Homo sapiens: one gene and its partner. The protein of the gene in region 1 binds, or shares a complex with, the protein of each later gene. Each region holds a gene or a part of one and is shown in the gene's direction. Other genes may lie near its edges.

The links.
Region 2: MBIP (region 1) and KAT14 share a complex: the UniProt entries of both Homo sapiens proteins name them as parts of the ADA2A-containing complex.

Annotation. Positions count from the first base shown.
Region 1 is NC_000014.9:36,310,481-36,317,693, reverse strand, and holds part of MBIP (MAP3K12-binding inhibitory protein 1), read left to right. Parts: intron 1-881; coding exon 882-1,001; intron 1,002-2,778; coding exon 2,779-3,003; intron 3,004-3,085; coding exon 3,086-3,182; intron 3,183-5,669; coding exon 5,670-5,735; intron 5,736-5,968; coding exon 5,969-6,121; intron 6,122-7,213. UniProt on the Homo sapiens protein: Inhibits the MAP3K12 activity to induce the activation of the JNK/SAPK pathway. Component of the ATAC complex, a complex with histone acetyltransferase activity on histones H3 and H4.
Region 2 is NC_000020.11:18,182,655-18,188,540, forward strand, and holds the end of KAT14 (cysteine-rich protein 2-binding protein), read left to right. Parts: intron 1-468; coding exon 469-644; intron 645-1,947; coding exon 1,948-2,138; intron 2,139-4,631; coding exon 4,632-4,805; 3' UTR 4,806-5,381; downstream 5,382-5,886. UniProt on the Homo sapiens protein: Component of the ATAC complex, a complex with histone acetyltransferase activity on histones H3 and H4. May function as a scaffold for the ATAC complex to promote ATAC complex stability. Has also weak histone acetyltransferase activity toward histone H4.

The DNA of each region.
Region 1 (7,213 bases):
ACTTTTATTCATTCAAAAGACTGCAGATGGGCGCTCTCATTGTAAAATTTTCACTCATTTTGATAATAATCTTATATTCAGGTTCTTGGTAGTTTTCTGGATATGATTTTATTCTATTAGATCACCAACTGATAGAAATTTCCATATAATGAGCTGTCACATCTTAGCATTTACAAAAGATCTGGACATTTCATCCAGTCTGACAACTTATTTCACTGTGGTGGAGAAGTCTTTGTTTTTCAGCTTCAGACTTCCATTGCTAAATAATAGTTTTTTATTTGAAATAAACATGTTGCCATTTATCCCTACACTTTATATGTATGAATAATCTTGACTTTTAAATTAGTTTAAAAATCGGTTAAAAGTTAAAAAACTAAAAATGTGATTTGGAGGACATCAGAATAATGATATATTTCTGATATGTATTTGTGTACATACTTAAAGAGAAAGATGCATGTTAAAACTTTCACAAAACACTTGTACTTCCTCTGTTTAAGGCTCTGAGCTAGAAGTAGTAGGATTCTGAATAGGGCAAGCCTATATTGGACTCCATCCAAAGGTTTGTATATATTGAAGTATCAAAAGAGCCTTCATCTTTTCATCTTTCATGAATGGTTTTACCTCTAAAATGGTCCCATTACACAGACCTAAGAATAGAATTTGAACGACATGTCATTTTGTTTTTGTTTTTTTATGAAAATCTGTAGCTTTCTTGGCCTTTTGAAATGGTAACTGGGTAGAGCATTTCAGTGTATTATTAAAAACTTGATAACTTAGAGCAAAATAGACCCGTTACTCTAGAAATCTTATTTTTGTGACAATTCCATATGTAGAGCTTAATCGTGTAATTTTTGTGATGTTGCTGGTTTGCCCCTTTGAAGCTTGACCTCAGAGATGATGTGGTGAAAATTACAATCGATTGGAACAAGCTCCAGAGCCTCTCGGCATTCCAGCCTGCATTGCTCTTTAGTGCACTTGAACAACACATTTTATATTTACAGGTAAATTTCTTGTTAGAAATGATAACCCGATATTGAAAATAGAAATTGATTGTGGTTAAGTTAGTTGGAGTATTTGACAGTTCTAAACACTATATTAATAGTGTTGCTAATAAAACGTTATTTACATCCGGATTTAATCTAAATCTGTTAATTTCAGTAGTGATCAGGACAGTTAAGGGAATATAGCCCAAAAGACCAATGTGGGTATGAGTGAATGAATGCAATTCTATTCAATTCTAGACCTGCACTGAAAATTCAATACAGTTCCATCTATGGTGGGTTATAATTAAGCAATAAGACACGGCAGGTGTGTGTCATGCTATGATAATGATTCCATGCCTTGGGTGAGTTTGGAGGCTCATGGAGTGCTTTCAGTGGTTCAAGAAGGGGCATTATCCCAGCATGACACATCCTGGAGTGTCTATTGCAATTAAACAGTTTCAGCATAGTTTTTAAAAAGAAAGTAATTTCTATGACATTAATGTCTCATCTTAGTAAGTAGCCAGTCACTATTTTATCATTTCTTTTCCTTAACAGTTTGAAATAATTCATTCTTTATATTAGAAGTTAATATTGAATTGGTATTTATAATAGTGTTGTTATATTTTTAAATATTTCATGTTAATAACTGAACAGTATTATGACCTTGCTGGTTTCTAATTGAACATCTTTGCAATTATAATTGATGTAAGTTTGCAGTTTATCTCTAATCAAAGTGTAAAATGTGAAGTGTCAAAAAGATAAGTGGAAAAACTGGATTGGTCAGTTTACTGTGATTAAGGTGTTATAAGATTTCAAAAGAGTAGTATAGCGAACAATGGAAGCAAAATTGTAGGTATGAAAAAAATAATTGGAACGTTATTAGTGTTAGTGTGTTTTGACTAATGGAATAGGCATTAATTTTCAGCCCTCCATTCATTGACTTTGTGGGAAATTTTAACTGTTTCATGTTAAAAGTAATAGTTAACCCTGTTTTTAAAGGGCAGAGCAGTGAGCTCTAGAACTCAAATGAGACCTCATTGTGGGGAGTGGGGGAGGGGAACAGTAAATGAGTAATATAGTTTAAATTCTACAACAGGGGTTTTCCCCCTGTAGTATAGTGATAGGCCTCTGCCTGTTTTCAGCTATAGATCTTTTTTTTTTCTTGTTCGTTTTCTTTTTTAAAATTTAATTTTATGACCAAAAGATATCTTGCCATGTCAGGAAAAGTCTGAGTGTTCACTCAGCCTAACACCTATATATTTCATGTCTATGCTTCCTCATTCACATTGGCCAACTGCAGTTTCAAGTGGAGAATCTCCAGTGATACAGTGATAATGCAGGGCTTTGCTGAGTGAGAGCACTAGCTCTCGTGTTAAGGAGGAAAAATACTAAGCCTTAGTGTTCTGAGGAGGCATTTGAATGACATGTTAATTAAGTGGCATTGGTGCCAGAGGCTGAAGGCTTTGATTTGGCACAAAATAAAAGATGAGTGACAGAATGATTCTCTCAAAGAAAATTTTAAATTTCCTTAGGTTTTCTTTTCTTTTTTCTTTTCTTTTTTCCTCTCTCCTTTTTTAAAAAACAAATTTATAGCAAATGATAATGGTTACAATAGCAGAGAATAGTGAGTACTTATATGTGGTCAGATCTATGTGTCCTGGTATACCAACTTTTTATATTTATTAACTGATATTAAGTATTTCATTTACTTAGCAGAAATTTATGTAAATATATTAAGTGTGTAATTAATTTTGGTCAGATTGAACCTCAGCAGATGGAATTGTGTTGTTCTCAGCCTTTTTTAGCAAAACTTCAGTCTCCGATTAAAGAGGAGAATACAACTGCTGTTGAAGAGATAGGAAGAACAGAAATGGGGAACAAAAATGAAGTAAATGACAAATTTTCCATTGGCGACCTACAAGAGGAAGAAAAGCACAAAGAAAGTGATTTAAGAGATGTGAAAAAGACACAGATCCATTTTGATCCAGAAGTAGTTCAGATAAAGGCTGGAAAAGCAGAAGTAAGAAGGTTTTTTGGCGGGGGCGAGAGGGTATTATTTTAAAAAATCTTATGTTTACACTGTTAAAACTTGTTGTTTGTAGATTGACAGACGAATATCTGCATTTATTGAAAGAAAGCAAGCTGAAATCAATGAAAACAACGTCAGGGAATTTTGCAATGTTATTGATTGTAATCAAGGTAACTACCTGGAAATTAATTTTCATAGGGTTTTAAGCACAATTTTTATAGTTGCTCTAATCTTTTATTTATTTTTTAAATGAATAGCTTTTAGAACACAATTCAATTTATTTCATGGATTTAGTTAGTAATTAAGACAGTAGAGTTTCCTTCTGCTTAATAATAGACTATATTGCAAACTGGTTTTCATTTTGGTTACACAAAGTAAATGCTAACATTAAAAAGTGTTTATCACAGGTGAAGATTATTTTAAAGTTCCTTTAGGAAATGAAGGTGAGGTACGAGTGAGAAGGTTGATCTATCTCACTAGTAAAAGGAACTGAGCTCTATGAATTTCAAACCTATACATGTACTGTGAAATCATGATGTTAATACGTAAGTGAACTTAGTAAAGTTAATATTCCTCCAGAGGGAGCAGTTTTCTCACTACTCCTGAGCTGTTTGAAATGTCCTGTGTCACGATACAACCAATTTATCATGAAGACCATGGTGTCTTGCTTTTTTCCTTTCTGCCATAGTGCATACATTTGCTGTTTTTCATCTGATTCACCTTTACCTCTCTACTTGATGCTATAGTACATTTACAAATCTGCAAGTATGCTGCAGAATACAAAATATTGCAATGCAGTGCCATAGATTATACTCAGGCACCATAGTAATAATCAGAACAAGTAGTTCTTAGGAAAAATTATGGAGAAGAGTTCATAATTGGAATGAACATGTTTCTTGTTGCCTCTAATATCTCATGGCTAATTATTATGAACATAGAATTGTCAGATGAACCTAGAAATGACTCATATCACATTGGTACACTGATTCTCTTAATGAAATAATATAGGCTGGTATTGGGTCCTGAATTTAGCTGTGTGCTACTATTAACATTACACATGTGCATCTCTAAATTTGGTATATTTTCCTGTTAGCTTTTCAGAACAGGTGCAACAATGGCAAAATCTCAGGTACTACAACCAACTACAAGCGACTATGAGAAAGGGTTTGTTGAGAGAGCAAGCACATGTGTCACTAATGTTATTCCTCTGTTCTCCCTGCTAACTCTATTATTATAAACCACCAGGGGATAGAAATTGACGAGAATTGAAATGCTCAGCAGGATTCCTTGGCCCATTCAATTCTTTGCTGGCTCAAAACAGTGCTAGCAAGAATTGCTGTGGAGAGTGACTAGCAGTCATACACTCACACCATGCTGAATTTCTCACTGATGGTCAGTTAATCTATATGTTTGGAATATAGTTCTGGAATGGATGATAGCTTCTTTTTTTAACCCTTAGCCCCATGAAATGGTAGGAAGAGAATGGAGAAAGGATGGCCCTTTAAGCATATTTTGAGGTGCCTCCAAAAAAAAAAAAAAGGAGGAAAGATGTCTATTTAGTCTCTAGATATAAAAGCTAAGTGGATTTGGAATTTTATGCATACTATTTGATTTATCAACAGAACTACTAAGGAAAGTTCAACTGAAAAAAATACAAATGTATTTTAATATGTTAGTGTGTTCCTTTTAATACCTACAAATTTAACCTAACTATAAGCAGTGGAATTTTTAAAAATCAAATTTCATAGGGGGGAAAAAATAATTTTTTTTAAAGAATCTCATTTACCAGCCATTTTTTACAAAATATTCAGGGGAATTTTACAGGAGATTTACTGCCAATGTGTGGCCTTTAAACATTATTTCAAACATAAGTATATATTATTACTATGTAGTATCGTATGTTAATATATAACAATTATGTTAATTAGTTGTATTATATGTTAACATCTTTCCAATTTTCCCCTTTTGTAATTTATGCATTGATACTTAATTTGAAAGAAACTACTTTTCAGCTTGGAAAAAAATAGGGACAAATTTTCACAATAGACCTTTACTAAAATGAAACTTTTTTGAAAAGTGGTGGGATAAGAAGAAGTAGATGACTTTTGTGATGAAGGGTTTTTAAAATGAGCACTGGAAATCTAGGTAGAGTGGAAATGTATGTGTACTTGAGGTTTTGAGGTCATCTTTGTGTGGAGTTCTGAAATAAAAATGTTAAATAATTCTTTTTGTTGGATGTTCACTAATTTGGTCATTAAAATAAAAAATGCTGAATTAAAAGAATTCTAGTAAAAATGATGAGTTTTATTTCTACGATGAAGTAGAATTTAAATACTCTATGGTAGATTATTTTCTCCAGTGGCCCAAATAGTGACATTGGTTTTCAAAATTGTATCAATTTGTGCCACTTAATGTTGATGGCTTTTCTGTATATAAATCTGAACATTAGGTAAGAATATTAGATATTATGATAAATTTTGACAGGTAAAGAAGGTCACTAAATTCTATCCTATGTGTGATAGTAATTTATTGTTACTATTATTTATTAAAATTATTATGAGTAAAATGTTAATATGAATTATTGAAAGTTTATTAAAATCTCATACATTTGAAGGGAAGAATATATTTAAACTTATATTTATCTAAATTCTCCTTAGAAAATAGTTGTGCAAGAACTGATGCGATTTTTACCCCTTACCCCGGATTTAAAAGTCACGTAAAAGGTAAGTAACCACCACATGACATCTGAGTCACTGACAGAAGTCTAGATTATTAGCAAAATGGAATAGAAATAACTTTCCCATCTAAATTTTATTTTAAAACAAAAACATCTTGCCGTCCTTCATACTTGTGGTTAGATGGTCTTTATGAAAAAAATATAAAGTGCTGTTAAGGAATAAGAATTTCTGATTTTTGAAATACAAATGTATATAGGCTCAAAAGTTTCTTAATTTAGTTTCTAGAGTTGTGAATACATACGGACCACAGACTAGACCTGAAGGAATTCCAGGGTCAGGTCATAAACCTAACAGCATGCTTCGAGACTGTGGTAATCAGGCTGTAGAAGAACGACTACAAAATATTGAGGCCCACTTGCGGTTACAGACAGGTAAGCAAAGTGCTAAGTGGCACCTCATAATGAACCTTTGCAAATGGTTAAAAAATTGCAGTTCATTTAGTCACCAAATTTTCATTTAGCTCCTAACATTTCTTGAACAGTAAGTGCCAGTCACTCAGGAAGTGTTATGTGTATGTCAATTCACTTAAAAGGTCATAGTACCCTTTTGAGATGGTGGTGGTGTTATCACTGTACAGATAAATAAATTGAAGTTTAAAGAGCCCAAGCAAACATGCCTAAGATACTAAGTGACAACTCTAAAAAAAAAAGAAAAAAGAGATAGTCCAGTCTTGCCCAGGTTGTACTTGAACTCCTAGGCTCAAGTAATGCTCCTGCTTCAACCTCCTGTGTCAGTGGGACTACAATCATGTGTCACTACTGCACCCTGCTCAAACCCAAGTCCTCACTGGGTGCAGAGACTGAGTCTCCCTCTCCATTTAGTCACCATGTCTGTTGATTCTGTTTTCTAAATAAATATCTCTCAAATCTGCCCACTTCTGTCTTATCTCTACTGCTACTACTAGAGTTGAAGCCACTGTGATCTCTGGCTTGGACTGATGGAAGGATATTTACTGGTTTCTTTGCCACTGGACTCCTCTAGATCATCTCTACCCTGTGGCCAGATTGCTTTTTCTAAAGCTCAAATTTGATCTTGTTTCTTCCCAGCTAAAAATGTGGAGATTGGGATTGAAGGGGGTTTGTAATTTTAAATAGTATTGTCCACATCTGTAGTTCCAGCTACACCTCTGGGCTTCCCATCTCCCACTCGTTGTGCTGCTTTAGGATCTTTATACTCATGCCCTTCTGTCCATGCTTTTTCTTCCTAATCCTAGACCAGTGCAGATTCACCTTTTGTATAATCTTATATAGCACCTGGTATTCCCTGCTCCCCTTTAAAGCAGTTATCATGGTTCTGTTTGTTTAATGTCTGTCTCCTGCTAGATAGTCCGTGAGAGTGCAACTATGTCTGTCATATTCATTTCTTTGTACCTATTACAGTGCCTGGCACAAAGCAAGTGCTCAAATGTTTATTGAATGGACAGTTGCTTATTTCACCTTTGCAGATGTATGTACGGAGGGACA
Region 2 (5,886 bases), on another chromosome or scaffold:
CCCTGCAGCTCCATGATCACCCTGACCCTCCATGCCAGCACCACATTCCTGGGCAGGCACAGTGAGAAGCAGTTTGTGAGCCTGCTCCAAGCTCATTGTGTCTCTGGTGTTCCCCAAATGCCCCGCAAAGTTGAGTGTTCCCTCTTCTGGCCTCCAAGGCACTGGAGATGCATCCTCATGTCTGACTCCTTGGGGTGAATCTGATGCTGTATCTGTTTCCTCACTGTTCATGAAGGCACCTAGCACAGTCCCTGGTGGGTACAGAGGGCTTTGGCCTGATGAATGTTCAGAGTGAATTTTAGATTTCATACATAAAAGTATAGCTGTAATCAAGCCAGCTTCGTGTAAAACAGTGCAGGTTACTTTAAAGTTTCAAGCAGATCAAAGAGTTTATATGAGTCAAAAAGCTAGGAATAATACCAGGTATTTTTCTTGACTTGAATTTGTTTATCTTCTGTGGTACCGGAGGCGTGATTATGAAACAAAGCCACCCAAACTGCAGCTCCTGTCACAGATTCGTTCCCACCTGCACAGGAGCGACCCTCACTGGACGCCGGAGCCCGACGCACCTCTCGATTACTGTTATGTGCGGCCAAATCACATCCCAACGATCAACTCCATGTGTCAGGAGTTTTTTTGGCCTGGTATGTTCCCCCTCCCAAACCAGGCAGGTCATTTTTCTGTACAGTCCATTCTAGCAATTTTTAAAATTAGTTTATGTGATATCCTTAAGATTTTTATTTATGATTTCGTTTAGTTTGTCTCTGCTAACATGGAAATATTAAAATACAAATACCTCTTGCTTTCCCAAAATCTAGAAGAAGCCAGCAATAAACAGTGTTTTTGTTTGTTTCTCTTCCCTGTTTGTCTCTGTTTCCAGAGTAAAAGATTCATCCTGTTTTGCTTCTGCATATGTTTAGATACCAGGTAATGTCTATCAAAGATACACAGACTGGTAGCTTGGGCGTGTTTGGACACTTTTGTTTTTGGCTTAATAATTCTTTATGTTTTGTTTATTTAGCTGTTCCTTAGAGAGTATTAGTACAGCCAGAAGGTGTTTTTTAAAAGCCAAATGCCCTGATCACAGACTGAGAATAAGGGTAAACCCAATATAATTTGTCATTTTATCAGCCTTAACAAAATTGCCTCTGAAGACCAAAGTCATTAATTAAAGGAACACATTTGCATTGCTAAATATAAACTATTCTTTGTGGATCTGCTTTCCCACGCTGCCTTGAAACCTAAAGGAAATAATACATGTCTTTCAGATGTTAGATACGATTTCATCAAGATAGAGCTGTGTCGTCTTTATTGTCACATAATCACATAACTGTGAATGTGGTGGCAGAGCTGCACTCATTCTTTTGGGAGTCATACTGAGCCAAAAGTAACATTCTGGGAGCATCTCCTGCTTCCTGCCCTTATGTTAGGTGCCTTCCATACATTATGCACAGAAGCATATTTTACTTATTTATTGTGAAAGGTAGCATTTGTACAAAAGAACTTATAAATTATATGTGTGGGGGGTAAAGGATGTGATAGAACACGCTCGGAGGATCTTTACTTAACCCTGTCAGGTCTAGGTATGCTCTTCATCTTACATATTGCAGAAACGGAGTCTCTGAGACATTTTGAAATGTGCCAAGCCACACATGGTAGAGGAGGCTGAGTTCAAAGCCAGCTGTGTCCAATTCTGAACCCGTGCACTGCTACCTACCCTATTCTGCCACTCTTCTTTTAGGAAATACTATGTAATTTCAATATTTTCTAAAATTCACTCTTATTTTTATGATCTGGTTGTGTGGTCTCTATGTTACCTCCAGTTTTGGTGTTTTTTTTTTTTTTTTTTAGCATGCAGGTGTAGCTATATGTACATGCTGAACAGCTTGGTGTTCCTTAATTCTCAAAGGCATGTGGTTTGAGTCTCCGATGGTTTCTTTTCTTTAGGCATTGACCTGTCTGAGTGTCTGCAGTACCCAGACTTCAGTGTTGTTGTTCTTTATAAAAAAGTCATCATTGCCTTTGGCTTCATGGTTCCTGATGTGAAATACAATGAAGCTTACATTTCATTTCTGTTCGTCCACCCTGAATGGAGAAGAGCAGGGATTGCAACTTTCATGATCTATCATCTGATTCAGGTAAGTTGTCTATGTTTATGATTTATCACCTGTGTCTGGGCTCCCCTGAACAACCTGGAGGAGGAATGAAGCTGAGCTAGCCCTTCCCAGCATGGCCCAATGGAATGGTTTCCTTGTAAACCAAGTGAAGAAAGCCAGTCATCAGCATTCATGAGGTTATCAAAGCACACAGTCAAAAATCTTCGACCCTCTAAAATAAGATTATTATTCAGACTCAGGTTTCATAGAAACCAGTTTGTGAACATGTGTATAAATAAAATGAGAAAATACCAAAAGCAAGAGCTTTAGGGTGGACTATTCATATTAGTAGTAGCTACTGCTCTTAGGATCATCACCTTCGCAACTCAGAGAAGTGAGGGTAGGACTATTATTTTTATTTTTTTAAATATTTGTAAACATTTTAGCACAACTGTATCAATAAGAATATGTATATATTTTTTGAGACAGGGTCTCATTCTGTCACCCAGACTGGAGTTGCACAATCATAGCTCACTGCAGCCTCAACCTCCTGGGCTCGAGTGATTTTCCCGCCTCAGCCTTCTGGGTAGCCAGGACCACAGGTGCACACTGCCATGCCCGGCTGATTTTTTGTAGGGACAGGGTCTCACTGTGTTGCCTGGTCTGTGCTTGAACTCCTTGGTTCAAGCAATCCTTCCACCTCAGCCTCCCGAGTGCTGGGATTATGGGCATGAGCCACTGTGCCTAGCTACATATTTTATTTTTGCTGATAGTTTGTAATTTTACTATCACTGTATAAGGCTGATATGAACCTTCTAAGATTTGATTCTAGTATTGAATTATAATTCATCCTTTAATATATTTGTATCACCTTTGAAGAAAATACACCATATATCACCATCAAAAAACATGCAAGGATTTTTTTCCCCTAGAATTTTTTTTAGTCAACTTTTACTTAGAAACCATTTGGTATGGAGGATTATATGTTTATGCAGGCAAGATTCCTTTTAAAGAGGAGATGAAGATGATAAAAGTTGTTTCTCCAATTTTTAATGAAACTTGCTTAATAATTCCCAAATGTTGGCAGGAACCTTGGAACCATTTTCCTAGAAATTGCTTTCCTTCTCTCCTTAGGCAGTGATTATGTAAATCACTCACTGAGTAATTAATATGTGCTACTTTGGGTGGTGGTTTTCTCTTGAGAGCTTCTCAGTTATTTCTACAACACTCCCTTTCTCTGCCCCATCCCAACCAAGAGTTGATCTCTCAGTATGCGTCTTTTTAACCTAGGAGAGCACTTAGAGGATTTGCTGCCGTATCTGTCACTGGTAAGGGCCTGAAGACAGGGCACGAATAGTACTCTGTCCTTGTGTGTGTGTGTCCTTGGTGCCCAACATGAGGGCTGGTACAGAGTCAGTCCCTGCTGAGTGTTTGCGAGGCCACTGGAGGAGTGGTTCATCTTTGCAGGTGGGCACCTTCCCCTCCAGCCAGACCATACCCCTGAGGGCCCAAACATAGGTGGCGCACAGTCGCTGGCACTCAATGATGGCCACGGTGAGATCACGTATATTTGCAATCTAGCAAACACCAATATGACCCCACAAAATTTGCTTTAAAAACTCACAAAGTGCTCTTGTCCCTGGCATACTGGTAAGTGCTCTCTTGTCCTAAAAATGCCTATGGATACACATGGAAGTTAAGCAGAGAAAGCAGGTAGCTATCAGATGACTGTCAACAGAGGAGTTCTTAGAGGCCTGAGAGAACCATGGGTTATAAATCTCAAGGACTCTATCAACTTCAGTATTTCAGTGCCTTCTTTATTAAAAAGTAAGTTCTTAAATGATATGACTTTTGGGACACCTTACTCTGTGTAGCTGATTAAAGAATCTAAGGACTTGCCTTGTGTTGATAGAATGATTGTTACTCTTTTCCCCTAAGATTAGGTCAAAGCTGAATGTAGAAATCTCAGTTCTAAGAAGCTAATTCTGTCAGTTTTAGAGAGACAGAAGGTGGACTTTGGGATTCAGAAGGTCTATACAAGGGCCTCAGGTTTTATAATTACATTCTTAATATTTCATGTTTGTGCATGTAATTTAGCAGGCCTAGTAAAGGAATTTTTACAGGTTTTGGGGAGGTACAAGATAACATCTAGTTTTAAAAAGCAAAACTTATTTTGTTTTGTATTTATTCAAGGTTATCATAGTGTTAGGTATTGAAATGTTTGACATATTTAAAGGTAATTGAGTTGTAAATAATAAAGCTGACAATAACAATATCCCCATTGACCCTTTGCTTCAAAGAAAAATAAAAAACACCCAGAATACTATCAGTTTCCTTGGTCTTGTGAATGTTTTGATCAGCAGCAAAATGTCATTCTGTTTCCAGCTGTTGCTAGGTGTTGCAATGTCTCAGCCTCAGTCTCTGATTTCTCCGGTTTCCATAACTAACTGCCTACACTTAAAAGCGTTTCTTTACCTACTCATTTTCCCTCAGGCCTTTCCATTTTTATCTTGTATTTTTCCACTCTTTTGGCAGACCTGCATGGGCAAGGACGTAACCCTTCACGTCTCAGCAAGCAACCCCGCTATGCTACTGTACCAGAAGTTTGGATTCAAGACTGAAGAATATGTATTAGATTTCTATGATAAATATTACCCATTGGAGAGTACAGAGTGTAAACACGCATTCTTTCTGAGGCTCCGGCGCTGATGCGAATACAGCTCACAGAGAAACGCATGTGCTATTGGAGAACAGGTCTTTGTGGAGATCTAAAGGCAGTGATTGATTTCACAGGGAGCTCTAATCTCTGTGATTACATGGTCCTTCAAACTCCCAACCAAAGTGAGAAAAGCGGCATGCAGTGAAATGAGCAGTGAGCAGCCCTTTAGCAAAATCGCCCTCCAGTCCTTCCTGGAGATGCCTTCAGCCAGCATCCCAGACTCCACAGTTATTTATGAATGATGTCGTGATTCTCCCTCCACCTGACAGTTTGTAAGAGTGAAAGAGCATCTAACCTGATGCTCTTGGAGAGAGATAACCTGTCTGTCATAACTTAAAGGATGAGAAAATGTGGTGTAGCTATTAAAGATTCATGCAGTCCCAAAAGGCACTGTCCTGGGATGATGAGAGATTATAAGGTGATTTCATAAAAGGAATCCAACCCTGTGCCCGGCCATTGATGTGTTGTCATTGAATCCAGGAGGATTTCTAGGGCACTGAAGTTTTGTTGTTTCTTTTGCTGACTTTGGTTACAGTCAGAAAAAATAAACTAGATGTTTGTGTCTACATGTTCTACCTGTTGTACCTATTAGCATCTTCCTGCAGGGACTTGGGCCCATGGCCTGGGAGGTTGGTTTGGGATTGGGGTTGTTGGGCAGCCTGCCATTCACCTGGCCTATCCTGGCCCTTCTCATGCCCAAGACAGTTGTTTCACAGGAGTGGAAGTGTGGGTGATGCAAGTAGAACCCTCTAGATGTACCCTGTGTGGTCTGCAGGACTGGACTGTTTGCTGTGTTTGTGGATGTTGGCGATAGACTGTCAATTAGGTTGTTTGTGATCCAACAAGAACATTTCCAAAAGTATCTAGGTGTTCTCAAATAAAAAGCTTTCTTTGCACAACCCATGGCCAGAGCGTCAATCTAGTCAGTTTGCTTTCAAACCCTCTTTAATTAAGATCAGTGGTTCTTAACTTTTTGGGACATGGATCACTTTGAGAATACAAAGAAAGCTGAATACTCTCTAGAAAACTGTCATGCACATTTAAAATTTTGCATCAGGGATCTGTCGACCA